3 linked regions of the Homo sapiens genome follow. The protein of the gene in region 2 binds, or shares a complex with, the protein of the main gene of each other region. Each region holds a gene or a part of one and is shown on either strand. Other genes may lie near its edges. A codon is read from its position in the direction of its gene.

Region 1 (7,867 bases), on a different chromosome or scaffold from region 2:
GCCACTGCTCTCCAGCTCCCGTGGGGGAGAGGCAGACATTGCTGCCCACAGACCTGCCTCTGACTCAACTGTGTCCACCCTCCCTGGTCCCTACCCCCAAGTCACAGGTGACTCAGCAGTGACCCTGTGTGCCAGGCCAGATCCAAACTGAGAGGGAAGGTGTCGTTTTTACACTGCTAATGACGAGAGTGGCTCTTTTTAGCTAAGCGAGTACAGACGGGGCCTGGGAGGGGGCAGAGATGTTCCCCAGGCCCTGCCTGTGGTTCCTGCCTGGGCCTTGGCTGCTGCTGTGTGAGAGCTGCATGTGAGCCTGTGACCGTGAGCTGGGGTGAGCTGGGCCGCACCTACCCTGGGGCCCCAGGGAGCAGGACGCTCCGGGGCCCAGCACGTTGCCCTGGGCCTGTGGCCGGAGTCGGAGTCCTCTCTCCTCCTCCTGGCTTTTGGAAAGGCTTGGCTGTGTTGGGGAGTCTCTCTTAGCCCTTTCAGGAATTTCTGTTCAGGCTTCCTCCTCCTCATCAGCTATTTTACCCATCTCAGAACGTATCTCTCAGGGCGTCTGGTTATAGGGAAACAAGTGGAGCAGGGACGTGGCTTTAATTGGAGCACTCGGCTGGGCTGCCTGGGGAGACTCTTCCGTGCGTTCTTCCTCTGGATAGAACCACCACCTCCTGGGCGTCACTGACAAGCTCCATCTTAACCTCCAAAGCCACAGAACTAGGGGCTCAGAGCCAGAGCTGGCAGCCGCCAGCCGAAATGATGCCATTGCCTGAGCTGACAGCCAAGCCCTTCTGTGGGTCACCTTTCTCCTCACCTTGCTCTTCCCTTTTGAAAGGCCCGTGTGTTTTCTTTCCTTACCCTGTGCTTGCTCATGTCTACTCCGGTTTTCTCTACCACATCCTTAGAGCCATCACCTGGCACGCAGGCGCCTTACATTCTACGGTAGAACGTGGGGTACTGTGTGTGCACATAGACACACTTACGTGGAATTACAGTTGTGGGTTTATCCAAGATGAGGAAGATTTCACTTGCTGTTTAATAGACTTGGGGCCATGTGCCTCCCCACACATGGGCAAGGACAGGTGGAATGTCGGGACCACACTGTGCGGCTTCTCGGCACAAAGTGGAGGGAGGCTGTGGTCGCTGCCGGCCTAGGTGTCCCAGGTGCCCCGCCTTTCTCTGGGACACAGTTGGGGGCTGGCTTCTGAGGGATTCCTTTCTCCCCTCTTTGTGTGGCCCCAGCCAGGGCGGTGGGCAGTCCTGGTGTAGAGCACAAGCCTCTCCACCCTAGAGAAATGCCTCTGTACCACGGCTACCATGTGGAACCTTAACTTGCAGAAGGCTTGTTAACAATTGTTTTGAGAGAGATGGCTGGTCATGCCACAGCTGCTGGGGACTCCGCCTACTCCAGCCCTCTTGGGACACACTGTGGGATTTGTGGCCCTTCCCCAGAGGAATTGTGGAGACTGTCCCATGGAACAAACCCTCAGGCACCAGCACAGGGCTCTGGGTGACTCAGTAAAACTAACGTTTGTCTCTGACAAGATCAGCTGTAGGCTCACCGGCCAGAGAAGACCACTGTGAGCATTTTGCCGTATATCCTGCCCTGCCATTTGTTCACTTTTTAAACTAAAATAGGAACATCCGACACACACCGTTTGCATCGTCTTCTCCCTTGATATTTTAAGCATTTTCCCATGTCATGAGTTTCTCAGAAACATGTTTTTAACAATTGTACTATTTAGTCATTGTCCATTTACTATAATTTATCTGACCATTTCCCTACTGTAAAATACTTGACGGTTTCTGATTTTTCCACTATTTAAATAATGCTGTGATGAATATCTTTAAAATCTTCTGATTTCTTACTTTTTTTCCCCTTAGATGCCTGGAAGTGGTATTTTGAGGTGAAAGAGTTTGTTCATTTTGAAGATATTTCTGTCTCTCTCTCGACCTGATGTGTAGACGCTCAGTTCCAGTAGCAGAACCACCTTAGTTGTGTCTTACAGATTCTGAACAAATCGGTTTCTGATAAGCCGTGTGTTCCAAAGAATGTCTGAATAAGACCGCTCTTTATTTAAATGCTAAGAGGATGTCACTACTGCAATCCATTTGTGGCCGATTTTTTCCAAGAGCCAATTTCCTTGTTTTGGTTGCAAGAACCTGGCTCTGCCTGCATGTCAGCTCTCTGCCCTCCCTGCTGCCGTGGCTTTCAAGCGCTTGGCGATATTTTCAGAATCTTGTACTTCATGTCCACAATGGTATTGAATTTGCAACTGCGCAGTCAGCAGAGATAACAAGTGTTGAACTGACCTTGCCACATGCTTAGTGAGTGATCTGTAATTAAGTTTATAGACTCAGAAAGTACATTAGGCCATTTGGAGTCAGTAGCAGAGCAAAGCCTCTACTTGAAAAAAACCACGTAGCTGATTGGGTTTTACAAGAGTGCATTTGTCTCCCCCTTCCACCCCCCCACCTTCAGGTCTTAGTGGTTCACAAGAGCCCAGCAGCCAGGCTGGCTTTTTCATTGTAGGGCGTGGTTGTCCCAGCTGGTGTAGATTTCAGGCCGCCTCCCCCCATCTCCCTGCCCACAGTGTTGCAGATTGCCTGGCTGGCAGCAAGTCCAGACCACCCAAATTTGGTTGGATTCTTCATTTCTCCACTGTAGTTGGGGTCCATTGATTGTGCAGGGGAACGTGCAGGAGGTTTTTCTAGGCACTGCGTTCAGTGCTGCTTCACTCTACCAGAGATTATGGCCAAATTGCACGGAATTTGGTTTCTTGCCCTCTGAAGCCTGAGGGCCCCCCCTTGCCTGGCTGGTTGACAGACCCGGGGTGCTCACTGCTGAGACTTCAGAGATCGCAGCTGCTGTGAGAATACGGTGAAGGTACTATGTTCTGGAAGATGTTGTCATACACTTTTCCCCAGTTATTTTCAAACTTGACATGAGCCTATGTTGACTCACTGGGTGGGGTCCCTTCTTACGCAGCACACGTGGCAAGTGCCTGAATCGGGGCTGGAGGCACTTCAGAGCCTCTGAGGGGCCACCACTTCTGGCCCAAAATTGCAGGGTTGTAGATGAGGCTGCCTGTGGAGAACTGGTGTGAGGAGGAAGCTGTTTCCAACAAAGAGCACTTTCATCTGTTGAGATGGCTGTGGTGAGCAACTGAACGAGCCTACGTGTGTACCTGAATTTTCCCCATAACTCATTTCTTCCATATGAAGAAACACCAAACTATGTACAGAGAACTTTTTACAAAAGGCAGACCTTTTTTAAGCTGTGTAACCCACATAGCCTAACCGTCTGGCAGAATGACTACGAATAGGGGTCATTGTGCTGGTAAAAGCCTCTATTACGACTGTTAAGTTGGATGTTGGCAAAATTAAATTGTTACAGTATTTAGAGCTGCTGTAGCTGTTCCTTCACAACATGAAATAGGATAAATGACTAGTACGTCTTTCAGGTGGGTGGCAGTCAGAACATGCGTAATATTCTCTACCTGGTCTGTAGCTGTAACTGTGATGTACAGACAAAGCAAAAATTAAAAGAACTCATGAAAACAAATAATACAATGGTATTAGGATATACACTTTTGTGTTTTTAATCTTATAGAAGGTTATTTGCTGGCTATTGTTGGCCTCTAGTTCAGCCTGTTATTTAAATTCTTTTTTTTTCTTGAGACGGAGTCTCACTCTGTCGCCCAGGCTAGAGTGCAGTGGCCTGATCTCGGCTAACTGCAACCTCCGCCTCCTGGGTTTAAGCAATTCTCTGCCTCAGCCTCCGAGTAGCTGGGATTACGAGCGCCCACAACCACATCTGGCTAATTTTTTGTATTTTTGGTAGAGACGGAGATTCACCATCTTGGCCAGGCTGATGTTGAACTCCTGACCTCGTGATCCACCCACCTTGGCCTCCCAAAGTGTTGGGATTACAGACATGAGCCACCGCGCCCGGCCTAAATTCTAATATATGAATTATTTGTATTGAATTCATGTTCGGGGCCACGTTGTTATATGTATTGATATACAGCCTTGAATGTGAATAATTACTATATATTTTACAACTTTTTTCTGGCTTTATTACAAAAACTTTCTTTTTTTTTTTTTGAGACAGACTCTCGCCCTATCACCAGGCTGGAGTGCAGTGGCGAGATCTCAGCTCACTGCAACCTCTGCCTCCCGGGTTCACGCCATTCTCCTGCCGCAGCCTCCCGAGTAGCTTGGATTACCGGCGCCCACCACCGCGCCAGGCTAATTTTTGTATTTTCAGTGGAGACCGGGCCTCACCATGTTGGCCAGCGTGGTCTCGATCTCCTGACCGCCTGATCCTCCCGCCTCGGCCTCCCAAAGTGCTGGGATTACAGGCGTGAGCCACCAGGCCCCGCCCTTATTATATAAATTTTCTATTGGGTCAATGATTTAATCATATAATTTAATGAATCTGTTCTTTTTTTCCCCCCAAATATTTGTGCTTTAGGTGTAGTTACCAGATGATGAATTTTCCTCCTATGCTCCGTAGTCTTGTAATAAAAAGCATGTACAGTGTAGACGTTTGCTGGCATGGCTCTTCCTTTGACCAGTTCATGAACTGGAGTCAGGGTGGGGGTGAAGGCTAGGGTCGAGGTCTGGGTCAGGCGCTCGTGCACCGCTCGTGGGAGGTCGAGGCTGATGTCCGCTGCTCCCCATCAGCGTTAGTGCCCAGATCACCCCGTGCTCCGCTCCCGCCGGAAGCGGGCCCAGCCTCCTGCTTTTCGGGACCGGAACTTCCGCCTACCGCGTGACGCCGGGGCGGGCGCTCTACCAGGGCGGACCTGTGGGCGGGACAGAACTCAGAGGACGCTATTAAAAGCCGGACGCTTCCGGTGGAAGGGAGCTGTTGCGGGGCTTGCTGGGATCATGGCGGAGAATCACTGCGAGCTCCTGTCGCCGGCCCGGGGCGGCATCGGGGCGGGGCTGGGGGGCGGCCTGTGCCGCCGCTGCAGCGCTGGGCTCGGCGCCCTGGCCCAGCGCCCTGGCAGCGTGTCCAAGTGGGTCCGACTCAACGTCGGCGGCACCTACTTCCTCACCACTCGGCAGACCCTGTGCCGGGACCCGAAATCCTTCCTGTACCGCTTATGCCAGGCCGATCCCGACCTGGACTCAGACAAGGTGAGGGCCTCACGGGCCAGCCCGGAGGGTCCTGGCCTTCCCGGCCTGCGGCTCCTGCACACGCCCTGCTTCGTGCGGAGGAGACTTCAGCGGGAGCGGGCGACTCTCCTCGGGCTTCGAGCCCCGCGCTCCCTTGTCGCCAGCTCCTCCCCAGCTTGCCCCGATCCCCTACCCTGGGAGGGGAGGGTGAGGATGGCGCCCTGGCGTCCACTGCCTTTGAGGATCCTGAGTCGATTCACCTTGGGGGTGTCTCTTCCTCGCCCTCTTTGCTCTTTGGTGGAGGAGGCTTCCTAGACCCCGGACTTTGCTGTGATTCTACTTTCTTTTTCTCACTAGGTTCTTTTGCCCAGGGTGTGTGAACGCCTTCTCTTCTCTGTCCCAGGGTACTTGCTGGCTCTGGAAACAGAACCCTTGGCGTTGTTTCACATTCTGGACGTTTGAATTAACGCTGACGTGGGGGTTGATATGGGCGGCCCTTTTTTTCCCTGGTGACTTGCATTTAGAGAGTTGGCGCTCCATCCTTTCCATCCACAGCACGCAGCACCCACTCAGCACCTCTTAGAAGATGCGTCCGTAGTATATAGTATGATTTTTCGAAGGGGATTTTGCTCATATTAAGGGTTGCTTTAGGGATGTCCAGGAAGGGTCAGGTAAGGAATCTTTCAATCTGCTTTCTAATTGGCTTAGTTTTCCCACTGTCTTCGCAAAAGGACAGGAATTTCCAGGTTAGTTTGCAGCTTGTCTTTCATCAAGCGAAATGCTCATGCTGTTGGGTAGATGGTAATAGAAACCTTTTGCTACCTTTATTTATCAAGAGTTGTGGAGCCGAGGAACCGTGTCTTGGGAGTTGTGCAGGATTGAAACTCACAAAAAAGCCTGTTTGAAGAAGTTGTTACCTATATTTATTCAAGGCAGTTCACAAGCCTTATACTAACTTTGCGGGGTCTTTCAGTTGAGCTTACATGACTGCGCTTGGCTTTGTGCCTTGGCAGCCAACATTTGCCATGCAGGAGGCTTCCCAGAAAGGTTCGGATCCCTCTTCAAGTTTGAGAAGCCTGACTGAGACCATTCTCAGCATGGCATGACCGTGATCAGGAAGTGAGAATCTGGAGTTACTGCTAAGGCAGCCTTGTGGGTGGAAATGAGGGTTTGAGATGCCAACCCTCCTGTGCCTCCCCACAACTTCCAACTGTTTCCATTGCTCATTTGACCAAGCCCTCTACTCAGAGAATTGACCTCCCAGGAAATGACAGTCATCCCCAGGATAGAAATAGGCGTTTGTTAGCTGTGATTTTCCTTTTATAAGTGTGGGTGTATGTTTTACTGTTTGGTTTTTCTTTTTAAATAACAGGGCTTAGTGGTCACTCCCTTGCCTTTCTACTCAAGCATTCCTGTTTTGTATATGAAATTAGAGTTTAAATTGCTCTTGTCCATTGGGTTCTTTGAGGCAATGGTTGTCTATTCAGCACTGGAGCACTTGATTCCCAGTTGATGAACTTTAGCACAGTTAAGGTGGTTGATCCCTTTGCTTTACTGTTCCTTAAGACTTTGTTAAAAATTATGGGCCAGGCGCGGTGGCTCATGCCTGTAATCCCAACACTTTGGGAGGCCCAGGCAGGTGGATCTCGTTCAAAACCAACCGGGCCAATATGGTGATGCCCGGTCTCTACTAAAAATACAAAAAGGTGGGCGCGGTGGCTCACGTCTGTAATCCCAGCACTTTGGGAGGCCGAGGCAGGCGGATCACGAGGTCAGGAGATCGAGACCATCCTGGCTAACATGATGAAACTCTGTCTCTACTAAAAATACAAAAAATGAGCCAGGCGCGGTGGCGAGCACCTGTAGTCCCAGCTACTAGGCAGTCTGAGGCAGGAGAATGGCGTGAGCCTGGGAGGAGGAGCTTGCAGTGAGCCTAGTTAGCGCCACTGCAGTCCAGCCTGGGTGAAAGAGCAAGACTCCATCACAAAAAAAAAAAAATAAAAAAAAAATAAGCCAGGTGTGGTGGCGCGTGCCTGTAGTCCCAGCTACTCTGGAGGCTGAGGCAGAAGAATCGCTTGAACCTGGGAGGTGGAGCTTGCAGTGAGTCAAGATCACGCCACTGCACTCTAGCTTGGATGACAGAGGAAGACTCTGTCTCAAACAAACAAAAAAATGCTTTACTGTAGGAATCAATTCTTTGAGCGAGGGGTAATTAATCTTTCTGAATATATCTGTGTTATACTTGCTCTTTTCATCATCATCCATTTAACCAGGTTTGATTTCCAAATGGTAAACTCAAATTCAGAACATGAAGGTAAAGTAGCAGATACAGTCGTCTCTGTCTCATACAATAATTGGAGTAGGGGCCGGGCAAGGTGGCTCACGCCTGTAATCCCAGCACTTTGGGAGGCCGAGGCGCGTGAATCACCTGAGGTCAGGAGTTTGAGAGCAGCCTGGCCAGCATGGCAAAACCCCGTCTCTACTAAAAATACAAAAAAATTAGCTGGGCATGGTGGCGCGTGCCTGTACTCCCAGCTACTCGGGAGGCTGAGGCAGGAGAACCACTTGAACCGAGAGGCAGAGGTTACAGTGGGCTGAGGTTGCGCCACTGCACTCCAGCATGGGCGACAGATCGAGACTCTGTCTCAAAAAAAAAGAAAAAAGAAAAGGAGAAAACAATAATTGGAGTAAATAAGGTTAGTTTTAGTGACAGATAGTTTGCCAAAAGTGTAGTGCTAATTCA
Region 2 (7,252 bases):
TATATTTTACTTGTCATGAATGAAAGCAATACATACTCATAACTGTCCCCTAGAGGTTTCTTGATACATTTACTGTTACAATGGTATTAATAAGAAGAAATTCTTTTTCTTTGAAATAAGATTACATAGAAGCCATGCCTATATTTTTAAATTGAGAATCTATATTATGTTCAATTGGGTTAGTTGGTTGTATAGATATTTTTATTTACAAAATGTTAATTTATTGGGTACATGTGGAATAAACAGACTGTCCAAGCCAACCAGAACATTTCCAGAGCTGCCAGGGAGATGATTTTCTTTTGTATGACCATATGATGAAATACTGAGATGGATTTTTATGATATAATCAGACATTTAACATTTTTTAGTTTAAGATGTAACGTCTCATATGCTTATGTGTCTCATATGCTTCTTGTCTCAATAATATAAGAAAAATTTTAAGGACACAGTAGAAAAGTTGCATGGAGAAGGCCTACAGTTTTCACATATTTAAGCATCTGTGGTTATGTTCTCAATGGGGTATTTGCCGACAATGTCATCTTATAATGCACATACACATGCTACTACCCTAAATATATACAACTCCATATCTAATGGCCTATAATACTTATTAGTTGCCTGGTAGAGACAAGAAAGTAGAAGATCTAGCCCTTCCATTCCAAGAGCTGATAATATCTATACATCTTTGCCTTCCAACTTAAAAACATTTTCTCTCTCTTAACATAGTCTTGGTCTACTCAAAACCATTGAACGGGTCTTTCAAATTGAAATTGTAGGCTTTGAGCTGTTTTAACAACCAATATCTGTACAATAAAATCAGCAGATCTGAAACATTGATTAAAGTGACTTGGTATCCCGAGTACCTAGAAACTGATGGTCAAGAAGAGGCTATTACTTCCTTTTACCAGCTCCTCACATCTTATATTGCTCTTTCACAGACTGGGATGTAGAAAAGGGGCTGGCCCACCCAACTGCCTGATCTCTCTGAATGCATGTGCTCCATATGCATAAATGGAAAGAATAAATGGAAATGAGGCCACTGTTTTCCTGTGTCAGGACACTGTCAGCATGAGTAGGAATACCAATCGCCAGCCATGCAAGATCTAGTGAGTTCCTATTCCAGTGCTGCTTTCTCTGCTAGATCAGGTGGCAGTTTGCAGAAAAGCAACATCCTGAAAGTTTATTTGCTATTTGCAAGTCAGGGAATATGACTGGGCACAGAAAAATAATCTACTGCTGCTTCAGAAAGTATTTCATAGACATTCTGAGGATGTTGCTTCCACAGGAAGGAAAATATCTGATTTCAGAACTGAAGCATATACAAAGTTGGGGCCAAATCCAATATGGGTCTGTGGTTTACAAACTGTGAGATGTGAAAAAGGATGTGATGGCAGGTCCCATCTGTCTCATTCACCCTAGTTCCTGACATACAGTAGCCATTCAATAATAATTATTGAATAAATGAATAACTGAACAAATAAATGAGCAGACTTCTTAATGACAAAATCATTTTGAAGCATTTTTCTGATCCTTGGTGGTTAAAAGCTTAAGGGAAGACACAGTTCACAGTGATGCTTTTAGACGCAGCTAAATTTTGGTTAAGCAACACCAATATACGAAAATCTGGGTTCACAAAGCAAATACATTACAGTTACTATACTTACTATATGCTTTACAATTAAGTAGAAACATACCTTAATGTAGTGGGTTTCTAAATGCTGGCCCATGATGTCTCCTTAGGTTCACAGTGAAATAAGAAAAATTCGTGTGACGTATTGTTCATTACGAGGCTGTTCAATTCAAGGAACTGTCCTTTATTCAAAAATGGATCTTCCCTCATTTCTGAGGTTAAAATACTTTTTAATAAATGATGGGAATAATCTATGCTAGTTGTTCCTTTTTAATACCCTTGCCAATATAAAGTTGCCAAATCTATAATGACTCCCTAGCTTATCAGAAAATATTTTATTAGTCTGAGAGATCCAAATGTCGGAGACTGGCTTAGTTTCAAAATATGACTCATTTTATAAAAGCATACAAGTGTTTTTTGTTGTTGTTGTTTAGAAACCTACCTATTGAATAAAGGAAGTAGTATAACCTTGGCTTTAATGCCCATGTTAATAACAGCCAACAGGTGGTAAGTTGCTGCTCCATGCCCAGTTCTCAGGGCTCTTTAAAACGTATTCATCTATTTAAATTTCACGGTAGCCCAAGGAGGAAGTATTGTTATTGTCTCCCTTTTACAGATGAGAAATTCTGGGGATTGTCAACTCCATGCCCCAAAAGATGCAAAACACAGCTAGTAAAGTGGCAGAATTGAGATTCAAACAATGGCTCCAAGAACACATATTCTTTTTTAAAATATTTTTTTATTTCTTTTTTTGGTTCCTCAGAGATCCCTATTCTGAACATATATTCTTACATTACAAAGAAACTGGGCCATATGAGAGTACAACCAAGAGAAAAACATTGTTTGTTATTATATTATGTTATGGAAATGGAGGTTCAATTAGCATAGAGATTATAAACTCCTATTCAAGGCTGACATTATCTTACATTGAAGTCAGAGCCTCTCCCAATCTTAGTTTATCAACTCAGTTCTTGATAACCTATTTTTAGCTTCAGTATTTACAGATATTGTCTTAAGCAACATTCTTGTTTCTTAAGCTCCTGCTTTAATTAGCCAATACCAAAAAACTCCCACAAAAAAAAAAAAAAAACAAGAAAATATGGTATTTGCAGTGGGGCGTTTTAAGCAAGAAGGGGCTTTAAGCACAACACTCATAAGCTTAGTCATCAGGATTAAGTTAATTTAGGGCAAATTCAACCTTACAGTCAACAAATAAGTGTATTTCACTTTATATTGTTTGCTATTTAAAAGTATTAAAATTCCAGCTTCTAAATGTAGATATCCATCCCCCAAACATATGCTTCTTTAAAATAGGAAGAACACAAACTTTAATAAGAACTCACGTATTCCCTTGCAGAGTCAGAAACCCAAACATAACAGCAATTGGGCAAGTAGGTAAATGAGGAAGTACAATTCATAACAAATGGACAGCAAAACCGATAAGTCAAATTAGACATTTTGACTATAAAGCGACCAAACGCCTCTCCTCCAAAACCAAAAGCCAAAACCTTTTCAAATATACAGCAACTGAATCAGACGGTAATTTTGGCTTTAAAAATCTACAATACTCTTGGTAATGGTAGAAATGATTTATCCGGTAGGTTAAAGATAGGTTTCTATCATTCCACTTAACATTATTTACCAAATGCTGCATTTCATTAATGGAGCTGTCAGTTTATTCTGATGGTAATGAAAAACAGGTTTTAACATGAATAAGCCCTGGGTCCACCAGAAAATATCAGTGAATCAAGAGGTCCCGAAGCTTATGCAGTTTAAGGGAACTTCGTAGATTAAATTTCCACCTTCCAGTCCTGAGAGCTGTGGTGTGCACACCCAGTCCGAATACCTTGTTGAGCATACAGGACACTAATTTCCGACACTGCAGCTAACTCCTGCACAAACTCTTCAAGTTGCAGGCTTCTACTCAAGTACCCATCCCTAGTCCACATGCCCTAGAAAAACACAGGAACCAGTTCGGGACGTAGTTACACATCTAGCACCCCACGCTCCTCCTCAAGACTATCCTCCTGCTGTCCCAGCCCAGTGGGGCCCAGCCCACTACCATCCCGCTCCCGCTCTCCGAACTTCCCCCCTCCCACTCCCCACCATGTGACCAGGACCCTCCCAACCGCCGCTCCGAGCTCCACCAATCAGCAACCACCTCCACCCAGAACCCGGGACCTGGCGCTCCACTTTCAAAAAGGCAGCTTAATCCTCCCGCCCTCAGCCACGCCCCCTTTCCGCTTCCCCGCCCCGCCGGCCCCTCCCACTTCCTTCAGTTCCCTGTTCCCCTCCTCCCCTCCGGTGGCGCCCACCCTCTCCCGGGCTTCGCCCCGCCCACCAGGGGGGCAGCGCGCTCGCCCTCTTCTCGCGAGATCTGAGCGTCCCCCGCGGCGGCCGCCGGGCTCCCCCTCCCGTCCTCCCACCTCCCTCCCCCGGCATCTCTCACTCTCCGGCTCTCCTCCCTCCCTCCTCCCCCCTCCACCCTCTGGGCCGGATCTCGTCTCGCTCAGGCGGAGGAGGAGAAGGAGGAGGAGGAGGACGACGTTCGGCCTGCGCAGTGAGATGTTTGTCCGTCGCCGCCGCCGCCGCCATCGCGGAGGAGCGCGATAAAGGGAGCCGAGCCGGACGTGAGGGGGACCCCGCGGAGCCGCCGCGCCAGCGCAGCCCCCCAGCCGCATCGGAGTCGCCAGAGTCCGAGCCGCCGCCGCCGCCGCCGCCGCCCCCGCCGCCGCCGCGGCTGCCCAGGGGCCGGCCAGCTCCCCAGCCCTGCCCGGGGGTCGCGCCGCCGCCGCCCCCAGCGTCGCCCCTAGCCTGCCTGCCCGCCTTAAATGTGACACCGGCGTCGCGGAGCGCGACCTGAAGCCGCCGCCGGGGAGGGGACGAGCACCATGTCGAATCTGAGCAAAGGCACGGGCAGCCGGAAGGACACCAAGATGCGGATCCGGGCCTTTCCGGTGAGTCTCTCCTCGGCGTCCGGGACCCCGGGGCCGGGGGCCGGGCCGAGAGCCGCACGCGAGGCCCGGGCTGAAGTCCCCCAACAGGCCGCAGGCCCGGCCTCCCCTCCCCCACGCCCGCCGGCCGCGGGGCGCGAGCCTTCCCGGCAACCGGGCGGCGCGGGGCCCCGGCGCGGCCGCCCTCCCGGGCCGTTCCCCGCGCCGGGAGCCCGGGCCTGGCGCCGCGCCCCCGTCCGGGAGCTGCTCCTTCAGCCGCTCCGCGGGCGTCGGCTGCGGCCGGGGCCCCTCGGCCGCCCCACGCCTCCCCACGTTGCCGGGGTTGTAGGCCCAGTCTCCGGCGCTGCTAGCAGCCGCGGAGTCCTCCCTGTGTGGGGCGTGTGTGGAACTTTTCACGTGGGGTTTCGCTACACTTTGAAAATTTACCCAGCCTAGCTTTTAGGGTGATGAAGGGGCTGCCCTCTCTCTCTGCCCCCCTCCCCAGGAAGGTCTATGCCATCAACCTGCCCCCGACGCAGTGACAGTGGTTCCACGGAATGCTCCGTGGTCATAAACTAGTAACATTGGGTGTATTTATAGCGTCTTTCATCCTACAAGCTTCCTAAGCACTTTACAAACTCTTGTGCAGGATTGCCTCGCCACTCGGAGGAAGGCCGGGTGGGGGGGAAGCAACAGAGAGCAAACCGGCCAATTGGTTCTCCATTTCTCAGCCTTGGGAGCCCAAAGAATGAGTGTAGTCGCCTTGCGGAGTAGCTTTGTTTCATCGCTTTCAGTGACAGCAAACGTGTTCTGCTCAGAAACTTTTTCTTTTTTGGCATTACGTTGAGTCGTACCCTTGCGATGTTTAGTATATAGGATATAACTTTGGGTGTCAAATCTGGTTCAGCTTCCCCGTGGCAAGCAATTAAAATGTACTGTTAACGAACTGGGCATACTTGCCTATGTCGCTACAATAAAAGGCATACGTCAAGACAGACGAACTAGCAATCGGACAGAAGATTTTAAAAAGTAAAATTAGAGAAAGATCTTGGTCTTCCCTTCTTAGATTCATAAATACTTCATATGATGTACCAGCGAAAGAGGGGGATTTGTTGTCACTTTTTAAAGCATGCTTTTCCTGAAGCGCAGTTGCAGTGAGGAAAGACTTACCTTGATGTGATTGCCCCAGTTGAGTCAAGTGATTTAGTTTCAGAGAACATGAGGACCTCTCTGAATTCCTAAAATTTAAAAGGATACACCTCATGCAGAATTCTGAAATTGTAAGAACATAAATACTAAAGTCAGTGTGCGAAAACCTCTGCTTTGTGTAAATAGGTACGATGGAATTTAGGAGAATAAGTGTTTTGATAATAATTAAAGATTTTTTGAATGTTTCAAACTTTTTTCTAAGTAAACGTGAGAAATGTTGACAAGCGAGTACTAACGAAGCTTACTAGTATGTTTTCCCTTATAATTGGGCAGAGCTGGGTTATGCATTTGTGAGTGATATTAATTTTCCTACTAAATTCTGACCACTTTAGAGTTTAGAATTACTTAGAATTTTATGAAGTTAATAGTTGTATACAACAGATTTTCTTTTTTTTTGAGACAAGAGTTTCGCTCCTGTTGCCCAGGCTGGAGTACAATGGCGTGATCTCAGCTAACCGCAACCTCCGCCTCCTGGGTTAAAAGCCTCCTGAGTAGCTGGGATTACAGGCATGCGCCACCACACCGGGCTAATTTCGTATTTTTAGTAGAGACGAGGTTTCTCCATGTTGGTCAGGCTGGTCTCGAACTCCCGACCTCAGGTGATCACCGACCTCGGCCTCCCAAAGTGCTGGGATTACAGGAGTGAGCCACCGCGCCAGGCCTATATACAACAGATTTTCTAGCAGTGTGTGCAGCCTTACACTACTCAATTCTTGAAGTCTCATGTTCTAAATAAGATTTTTTGCTAAAATGTGGAGTAACTCAAATTTGACATCAACTCACTCAAGTTAATGGCCTTCTGATTGACCAGTTGTACGTTAATGTATGTGTAATTAAACTCTTTGACCTCTTCAGGTTTCCCTGCTCTTACCTGTTTTGCCATCATTTAATTTGTTCAGCAAATACTGAATATTATGTGCCAGGCACTGTTCTGGGGGTCTGTCAGTATAGCTAGAAAGACCAAGATCCCTGCCTTTTGGAGCTAATATTGTTGGGGAGAAGAGGTGGGAGAGAATTTCATTATTCCTTTAGCTGACCAGTATAATAACGTTGTGTGATACGTTACCACATAGTACTGGAACTGAATTTTTTTTTGTTAGCTTCGTTATGATTATGAGCTAATTTGGATCCATTCTGTCTATAACTTTTGCAGGTTTTTCTGAAAACCTTACATGAAGTAAGTGACTAGTTTTGGTATTCAGTAGTTAATAGCTGCTGATTTCTAAAAGAATTTTTCATTACTGTTTAATAAGTATTAATAACATTCCTAAGTGATTCCCATTGGAAAGAACTATTACAGTTTATGGCCCTTTGTTACAGATAGATGTATATCTCAGTGTTAGGGTGTTTCATAGATTTATCTTACTAACCGTGTGCTTATAGACCTTCAAAATTCCTGTCTTCCAGATTGGCAGTCTTGTTCATAACTACAGACTGCGTGAGTTGCTAGTCAAAAGTAGTTAATACCTAGTGTTCCGTA
Region 3 (2,646 bases), on a different chromosome or scaffold from region 2:
AGCTCCTGGCCCCTGCCAGGGGCTTACATCAAAACACCTCAGAGGGCTGCCCTCCAGAGGCTGCACCCAGAACAGTGGGACATGAGCAGGGGTGTGGGCTTGGAGGGTGAAGAGGATGTGGTCCTATCAGATGCTGGGCCTCCTCAGCCATAGCCCCCTGCTCCTACCCCCTGACTGGCTCTTGCGTCCTCACCTCTCACCCTCTCCTTCCCGGGAGGCCCTGGGAGGTGATCATTGACACCCAGCCAAGCAGACAGCTGCGGGTGCCCAAGCCCTTGCTGGGCCTGCGCGTGAGGAGTCCCACTGCTTCTAAAGGAAGTCCTGGGCAGGAGGTGGCTTTGGTGGTTGGTTCCAAAGTTGAAAATGCTTGCAGTTTGACCTTAGAAGAAGTGGGAAGAAGAAGGAGCTCTACAGGGTCAGCTTTGTTTGATTTGTCCAGTCTAAGAAGTCCCATTGCCAAAGCTTTCTGCAGGAGGGTGAATGCCGCAGCTTGGCAGCCCCTGGGTTTCTCTTGGAAATGGTCAGTTTCCCCTCAAAGTACCCAAAGTAGCCTTGGCTTGAGTTTTTGTCCTTGCCTCCTTTTTAGAGAAGAGGGCATTTAGACTGCATTTTCCTGGTTAAAGAAGGTTAAAGCAAATGTTTATTGCCTTTTCTAGTGAACTAACTCGTAGAGATGTTCTCAGCAGGAAGACAGTCTTAGCACTGTCACTTAGCAGATTGCACTTAAGTCCCTTGTGCTGGCCAGATGGCGTGGCTGGTTGCCTTAATATGTCCCAGGACCCCTGACAGGGCTGCCTGGCCTCTCCCTCGTGCTCCTCAAGAGCCCAGTCCATACACTGTGGATGTCATTGCTGTCGGGTTAGGAAGTCTTGTCCTAGAACGCCCTGGCTGGTATGACCACAGTTCATGGCGGCTCTTCTCGCTTGGGTCATGGTCATCTTCCAGCACCTGCTGTGCTGGGAAGGCCGAGGATGGGGGCCCAGCACTGTCCAGGCCTGCTGGGGCCTGGCTGGGAGTCCTGTGGGCAGCATGGAACATGCAGCTGGGCTTCCTGTGACCAGGCACCCTCTGGCACTGTTGCTTGCCCTGTGCCCTGGACCTTTTCCTGCCCTTCTCCTTCCTCTGCTCCCTTGGGGCTACCCCTTGGCCCCTCCTGGTCTGTGCAAACTCCCTCAGGGAGCCCCCCTGCCCTGTAGCTCTCGCTTAACTTCCTAGGGGCTGCTGAGCCCACCCAGAGGTTGTTGGAGTTCAGCGGGGCAGCTTGTCTCCCTTGTCAGCAGGGGCGTAAGGGCTGGGTTTGGCCATACAAGGTTGGCTACGCCCTCAATCCCTGACCGTTCCAGGCACTGAGCTGGGCACCCACGGAAGGACATGCTGTCCAGACTGTGATGACTGCCAGCACAGGGCATCTCGGGCTTGGCTGGTCTGCGAGGCCTTGCCCCTGTGGAACTCTGGGTTCCTGTTTTCTCAGTCTTTTTTGCGGCTTTGCTGTGGTTGGCAGCTGCCGTACTCCAGGCTTGTGTCGGCCACTCAGATGAGGGCTGTGGTGCGAGCCAGTGCAGGAGAGCTGCGCTTGGGATTGTGCCCTCTCCTGTGTCTGTCCTCCGGACCTACCCAGGTCTCCACCATCAGGACCCTGTCTTTGGGTTTAGAAGACCAAGTATGGGGAAAACCAGGCACCAGCCTCTGCAGCAATGGGTCCCTCTAGCCTGTGGACACCAGCTGGGGGATCCAGGGTCAGGCCCCCTCCTCTCCCCAGTTTCCCTCTGCTGTGGGTTCTGGGCTGTCATGTCTCCACCACTTAAGGATGTCTTTACACTGACTTCAGGATAGATGCTGGGATGCCTGGGCATGGCCACATGTTACATGTACAGAACTTTGTCTACAGCACAAATTAAGTTATATAAACACAGTGACTGGTATTTAATGCTGATCTACTATAAGGTATTCTATATTTATATGACTTCAGAGACGCGTATGTAATAAAGGACGCCCTCCCTCCAGTGTCCACATCCAGTTCACCCCAGAGGGTCGGGCAGGTTGACATATTTATTTTTGTCTATTCTGTAGGCTTCCATGTCCAGAATCCTGCTTAAGGTTTTAGGGTACCTTCAGTACTTTTTGCAATAAAAGTATTTCCTATCCATTTGGAGTCATTGCCTTTGTCCTCCTGCTACTGTCTTCTGGGACTCTTGGGCTGAGGACAGATGTCAGGGGAACAGGCAGCATGGAGCCCAGGGTTCACACTGAGGGTCTTAAACAGCCTTCCAGGCCCTTTCTCATCTCAGATTGTAGCAAGTGATGAAGCGTTGGAAAAGACATGCCCCAGAGGCTGGGTGTGGTGGCTCACACCTGCAATCCCAGTGCTTTGGGAGGCTGAAGAGGGAGGATCACTTGAGCCCAGGGGTTCAAGACCACCCTGAGCAATACGGGAAGACCTTGTCTCCATTTAAAGAGAGAGGCCTGAGAAGTAAATGCTGTGGAACAGATGATGCCCAGGAAACCTGCCTGCTCCAAAGCTGGTCTTTGCCTGTTGGTCCTCTGCCCGGGCCCGGCTCCCACAGCCCTTCTTGAGATTGCGGTACATACAGGTGGTGATGAGACTCCCATCTGCGATGAGATGGCCCTTGGACCTGGGGAGGTGGA

The links.
Region 1: the proteins of CUL3 (region 2) and KCTD5 are in contact, whole or in part, in a cryo-EM structure (PDB 8U83), measured with the Homo sapiens proteins. Residues at the interface, in NP_003581.1 of Homo sapiens: Thr24, Met25, Asp26, Glu27, Lys28, Tyr29, Val30, Asn31, Ser32, Ile33, Trp34, Asp35, Leu36, Leu37, Asn39, Ala40, Glu43, Asn48, Ser50, Leu52, Ser53, Glu55, Glu56, Leu57, Arg59, Asn60, Ala61, Tyr62, Thr63, Met64; in NP_061865.1 of Homo sapiens: Trp45 (codon at 5,026), Phe55 (codon at 5,056), Leu56 (codon at 5,059), Thr58 (codon at 5,065), Thr61 (codon at 5,074), Arg64 (codon at 5,083), Asp65 (codon at 5,086), Lys67 (codon at 5,092), Ser68 (codon at 5,095), Pro96, Thr97, Tyr98, Phe99, Gly100, Pro101, Leu103, Asn104, Tyr105, Leu106, Arg107, His108, Gly109, Lys110, Leu111, Val112, Ile113, Asn114, Lys115, Leu117, Val122.
Region 3: CUL3 (region 2) and KLHL21 share a complex: the UniProt entries of both Homo sapiens proteins name them as parts of the BCR(KLHL21) E3 ubiquitin ligase complex.

The regions. Positions count from the first base shown.
Region 1 is NC_000016.10:2,677,656-2,685,522, forward strand, and holds the start of KCTD5 (BTB/POZ domain-containing protein KCTD5), read left to right. Parts: upstream 1-4,867; 5' UTR 4,868-4,893; coding exon 4,894-5,145; intron 5,146-7,867. UniProt on the Homo sapiens protein: Its interaction with CUL3 suggests that it may act as a substrate adapter in some E3 ligase complex. Does not affect the function of Kv channel Kv2.1/KCNB1, Kv1.2/KCNA2, Kv4.2/KCND2 and Kv3.4/KCNC4.
Region 2 is NC_000002.12:224,582,279-224,589,530, reverse strand, and holds the start of CUL3 (cullin-3), read left to right. Parts: upstream 1-4,167; 5' UTR 4,168-4,521; coding exon 4,522-4,587; intron 4,588-7,252. UniProt on the Homo sapiens protein: Core component of multiple cullin-RING-based BCR (BTB-CUL3-RBX1) E3 ubiquitin-protein ligase complexes which mediate the ubiquitination and subsequent proteasomal degradation of target proteins.
Region 3 is NC_000001.11:6,590,224-6,592,869, reverse strand, and holds the end of KLHL21 (kelch-like protein 21), read left to right. Parts: 3' UTR 1-2,146; downstream 2,147-2,646. UniProt on the Homo sapiens protein: Substrate-specific adapter of a BCR (BTB-CUL3-RBX1) E3 ubiquitin-protein ligase complex required for efficient chromosome alignment and cytokinesis.